Regions from separate parts of the Homo sapiens genome. Here region 1 is linked to region 2. A link means that fine-mapping ties the variant in region 2 to the expression of a gene that starts in the linked region. Tissue or cell type: whole blood. Region 2 holds a variant in brackets; the other region holds the start of a gene. All regions are shown on one strand. Distances are between the middles of the regions.

The links.
Region 1: it holds the start of GNL3L, and the variant in region 2 is fine-mapped to the expression of GNL3L in whole blood (TOPMed, PIP 0.99).

The regions. Positions count from the first base shown.
Region 1 is chrX:54,528,762-54,531,783 of GRCh38, forward strand. It overlaps GNL3L (G protein nucleolar 3 like), which reads left to right and starts at 1,458. Exons shown (of 16, transcript NM_001184819.2): 1 at 1,458-1,658. RefSeq lists enhancers at 859-1,379, 1,034-1,083, 1,534-1,593, 1,604-1,863.
Region 2 is chrX:54,558,727-54,561,312 of GRCh38, forward strand. GNL3L (G protein nucleolar 3 like) reads left to right here. Exons shown (of 16, transcript NM_001184819.2): 16 at 1,794-2,586. The coding sequence ends at 1,876. Among named protein-coding and RNA genes, the nearest start is that of GNL3L, 30 kb to the left of the region's middle. The variant C/T (reference allele first, on the strand shown) is at 1,436.

The DNA of each region.
Region 1 (3,022 bases), 30 kb before region 2:
CTTAGGTGGAATAAATAGAGATCCAGTTTTATATTTCTTTTCATGGAGAGCCAAATTTCCCAATGCCATCTACTAAACAGCCCATTTCCCATTTTTTGTGGTGCAGGCCTGTAAACTCACCCATTTAACAAACAGTTGTTGAAGCCTGCCTCATACCAGTCTTGTGCTGGGTGTTGTTGAAAGCTTGAAGATACATGGCCCCTGCTCTCAGGGAGTTCACCCTCCTGTGGAGACACAGTCACATAAACAACTACAGTATTGTGATAAGTGCTAGCTTAGCTGTATAGGTAAGGTGCTCTGGGTTTCTAACTCATCTGCGAAAGTCAGAGAAGGTTTCATCGAAGTGACAAGAGTTAGGTCTTAGAGAAACAGAGCAAAATTGCAAATGCAGGGGGAAAGGTGAAAGTGGTCAGGGCTGGTTTCAGGTCCAGAGGAATTTCATGTGTCTCTAGGATGAGAGGTTAGAAGCCCTCCAACGATGTAGAGAGGTAGTGAGTCCTGTTTATGTAAGGGATAAAGGGACAGATGGAGTCATTTTCAGCCCGTCTGTGCTTGAAGTGGAGAAACAAACCCACCCTCGGAGGCACAGAGTTCCACCTACTCTGTGCCCCACCCCAGGGTTTAGGCTTGAGGAAGAGGAGGGGCTGGAATTAAACCATCAAGAAGAAAACATTTGCAGACTAATATTTACTATTTTGTGGGGGAGACCTCACTTCCCAGCCAGCTCCTTGAGATGGCTTCAGAAACCCCTACTTGCCCCACTCCAGAGATATAAATTCATTCCCTTCTGCAGACGCTGCTCCGGGATTGAGGGAAGGATGGAGTAGGAGGGGAAGAAGGCAAAAGGGTGGGAGAGGCTTCTAGTGTGGGAGAGGCTTCTAGTCGTTCTGGCTCCTGCTCCAGCTCGGGTTGGGTATGGCCATAGATCTGAACGTATGCAGAAAAAGCTAGGAGTGCTCAGGGATGGTCTGGGGCTCAAGGACCCGGGAAGGTGGTTGGGAATAGCTAACCAATTCACTTCAGGTGGGGAAATACTCGGCCAGACACGTGACCCAGGCGGCCATTTTCTCACACCCTGCTGTCGCCATCTTCCAGGCAGACAAAGACACCATCCCCCACCCTTGTCTGATTCGGGCGTGGTGACTGCCTGGTTATTGAGATTTGGGAGCACGCATATTTAACCCCAGACAGATGCCCGCAGACAAAATTTTGGCTTGCAAGTAAGGTATATGGCCGCACCAGTCGACCCGCCGCTTCTTCCCGGTCATTTCCCCGTCCTCCTTCTCCCTCCTCCGCTATTTCCTTAACTACGGGGCAGGCAGGAGGCGGGGCCAGCGTGGTCGCGAAGAAGGGACGGGCGGGCGTGAGCTGTCAGTCAGAAGCTCCGCCCCCCCCCCCCCCCCCCCGCGGAGACCGCACGGTGGGCGGAGTCGGGCGCCGCCGGCCTGGGATCCGGAAGTCGGAGCCTAGCTGCGCGAGAGTTTCTGCTCGCTCAACCGAGTTGTCGTGTTGCCCTCGCTTCTCAGATCCCCGCCGGAAGTGTAAGTAAGAAACTTCTCTCCTCTTTTCTCACAATGTGCGCTCACCTAGACGGCCGGGCAGTTAGGATCGTCTATTGGATGTGAAACCAGAGATGCCCGCCAACCTGGAATAGAGAGGTAAACAGCAGGATCCCTTCCAGGGTAGAAGGGACCGGAAGAGGGGCAGGGATCGCGGCACACGTGGAGACGCGCCGAATTGCCTTTTCGCGGAGTGGAGTTTGCCGGGAGAGGGGCATTGCCCCATCCCACCTAGAAAGGTGTAGACCCGGGACACACTGTGTAGAGAGGCACAAACTTCACTTGTGTGGTGAAGCGTTGATCGTCCTCAAGATAGTGAGGCTTCATTCTGCATTCACCTTGTATAGACAGGAGTCGACCCACCAAAGGCATGGGGGACATCCACCCCAACCGTGTAGAGACATCTCCCTCCACCCAGCTGAGCAGCGCAGACTTCTCCCGACTTAAGGCACTTCCTTGGCTTGGCTCTAGACAGCCGTCTCGAGGCACCTCCTCAGGACAGACAGAGGCTTTGATGTATCTGCCCCCATACCAGCATAGAGGAGCTTAGAAACATTTAATATACAGAGGGAGGGCACCTCCTCCCCATACGCGTAGACTCAGAGCCCTCAGTATCGCTCCCCAACTCACCCGTCCCCAAAGTGGTTGCAGTTACAGGCCTCAGCTTATGGACAACTAAGCCAATTGCCCCCTCCTCTTAGGTTAGAGTGAGTCCCCATTGTGGAGAATCAGACCTGATCCCTACTTCCGTAGCCCCCGTTTTACCGAATGTGTAATTTTTCGAAGCACCCAACATGCTTCGAAGCAAACAGGAACAGACCTTAATCCATGAAGAGACAGTCAGGTCTGCCCCTTGAGGGGCCGTGGGGGTAGAGGGGCTCAGATGTGTTCCTCTCCCTTTGAGGTAGACACAGATCATCCCCCTACCTCCCCCTACCTCCCCCAAAGATTTAGAATCACTAAATGTAGCAAGGGAGATACCCCACAGGAGCAGATATGCAGGTCTCCCTCCCTGTAATGTTGAGAGGGAGTGACATCGCTGATTACCTGGCAGTTCAGTGCGTATGGTCTCTCCCCTTTACCCAAGGTAGTGGAGCTCAGATCTGTTTCTCTCCACCCAGGGTAGAATCACAGACGCCCCCACCCCCAAGTATTAGGGCTGATCTATTAATTTATAGCTGCATTGCCAGCCCCCTCCACACACCACCCATGCAGAGAACCAGAGCCCCTATTTCTTTCAGTGTTAGTGTGCCGCTGACTTCAACCAGCATAAAAGATGAAAGTTGTCACAGTCCACCTTCCATAGAAGGGTCCAGAATAGCTCACTGCAGGTAAGGTGCAGACCCGCTTATTCAAAGCTGCATAGTTGTGGAATCAGGCATATCGATCCTGTACCACAGCCCTCTCCAGGGTGAAGAGACGCAGGACCCATCCCCACAATCTAGAGATAAACAGATCTGTGA
Region 2 (2,586 bases):
GCTCACTGCAGTCTCCGCCCCCTGGGTTCAAGCGATTCTCCTGCCTCAGCTTCCTGAGTAGCTGGGATTACAGGCACCTGCCACCATGTCCGGCTCATTTTTGTATTTTTAGTAGAGACGATGTTTCGCCATGTTGGCCAGGCTGGTCTCAAACTCCTGACCTCAGGTGATCCACTTGCCTCGGCCTTCCAAAGTGCTAGGATTACAGATGTGAGCCACTGCACGTGGCCCCACCTGGGATCTTGATTGGGGCTCCTGAATGAGTATCTCTCTGTGTCCAGCTCCAGTCTAGGGTTGGGGGCAGGGATGAGCTAGGAGGCTCAACTACTAGCACAGTGGCTCTCAAACTTCAGCTCGCATCAGGATTCCCTGGAGGGTTTGTTAAAACACAGATTTCTGTGCCCCTCCCTCATAGTTTCTAATTGAGTAGGTCTTCTGTGGGGCCTGTTAGAATTTGTATTTCTAACAGGTTCCCAGCTGATGCTATTTCTCTGGGGATCACACTGGGAGAACCACTGGCCTGCCTAGTCTATGTATCAAATAACGACCATTTATTTATCAGGTACTCTCTATGTGTTAGGTAGCTTGCAGGCTATATATCAATAGGCAATATACTCAAAATCCTACACGTACAAGAGGATATACAGTAAAATCTCTCCCACCCGCTAGTCATCCAGACCGCCCCCTCGTCAGCCAGTTAGTTTATTGTGTCTTTTCTGAGACACAAGCAAATATCTATATATTCTTTGTTCTCTTTTTCCACACAAATGCCAATCTACTGGACACATGGTTTTGCCCTATCATTTTTCCACTCACTATGTCTTAGGGATATGTCTATGTTAATACACAAAAGAACTTCTTCCCCTCGTTTTAATGGTGGTACATTGTGTAGCTGGCCCATTTGGGTTTCCATGCTGTACTTTTCACTAACTCATTGCAAAAGTCTTCCCCTTATTTGATAAGTGAGAAAACTGAGGTCCAGAGACATTAAGTGACACGCTAAAGGTAAGACAACTTGTAGTTGATGGAGCCAAAATACAGACTTTGGGTTGATTGACCCCAACAGCCCTATTCTTTGAACTAGATTGTGTTCTGTAACCAAACATACACAATCAGACATTCACTCTTGGCCTGGCTCCACACTGAGTCCTGGGAATTCAGATGAATTGCCTTTGAACTCCTAGTCTTATTAGGGAGTGAGGAGGAGACAAGAAAACAGACCTTGGCAGCACGAGCACATAGTAATCACGTTGAAGACCCAGCAAGCACAGTGAGGGAACCTAACCCAGCCTGGGGATGGTGGTTGGATAGGGGTGATCAGAGAAGGCCTCCTGGAGGAGGTGAAGTCTGGGGGGCATCCTGAGGAACAACAGGGTGTGTCTGGGGGATGGGAGGTGTGCGTGGTGAACGTTCAGGCTTATGGCGAACATACAGC[C/T]GTGTTGCCCTTTGCTGTGAGAGCTTTGTTTTGAGGGTAATGGTAGAGCACTAAGTTTGACATAGTAAAAGAAAATTATTGCTTTGGTATTTGGACAAAAATACTTGGAGCCCAGTGAGTCTGAAACCCTGAGATAGAAGCTGTGTTGGGATGATCATTTCACAGATAGAAAAATGGATTGTCTACCTGTGAAGCTGAGCAGTGGCTTCCAGCACTCACCAGTTTTGTGGTAGCGTTTGGGGGTAAGTGAGCCAGTTCAGGAGCTTGGTGTAGACCAAGGTAGATGTAGGCCAGCGTCAGCAGGCCTCCTGGTGGCAAGCCAGCCACCAAAAGATTGCCTGTATTTCTCCATTTGCAGATAAAATCGCCAGCAAGCTGTCTGATTCCATGATGTCTGCTCTCGACCTCTCTGGCAATGCTGATGATGGTGTTGGTGACTAATCGACTGATCTCACTTCCCTTCCGCTCCAAGCACCAGTTCCGGTGGTACGGGGGAATACCAGTGAAATAGTTTGGTTCTCCCTGAAGCATCTGCATATTGAAAGAACGCTTTCCCCACTGTGTGTCTTCTCCCCCTCCTCCAGTAAAAACAGTCCCGGCTAGGTGCTGTGGCTCACGTCTGTAATCCCAGCACTTTGGGAGGCCGAGGTGGGCAGATCACCTGAGGTCAGGAGTTCGAGACCAGCCTGGCCAACATGGTGAAACCCCGTCTCTACTAAAAATACAAAAAAATTTAGCCGTGCTTAGTGGCACCTATAATCCCAGCTACTTGGGAGGCTGAGGCAGGAGAATCGCCTGAACCTGGGAGACTAAGGCAGGAGAATCGCCTGAACCTGGGAGGCAGAGGTTGCAGTGAGCCCAGACGGCACCATTGCACTCTAGCCTGGGCAACAACACGAAACTCCGTCCCAAAAAAAAAAAAAAAAAAAAAATCCCAAGGGGCTGCAGCTGCCAAACCCAATACCCTCTATTTAACCCCTACTCTGTTTTACAAGAGAAATAAAAGAAGTATCAGCAGAGCTCAGGTGCTAACACCTGTTGAGGGCTGACCTACAAAACTCTGCCTACAAAACTCTCTTAGACAGGTGAATATGCCACTAGAAGTTAGGTTGCTGGTAGACCTGGGGGTCCCTGCGGGAGGGTGATGGTTT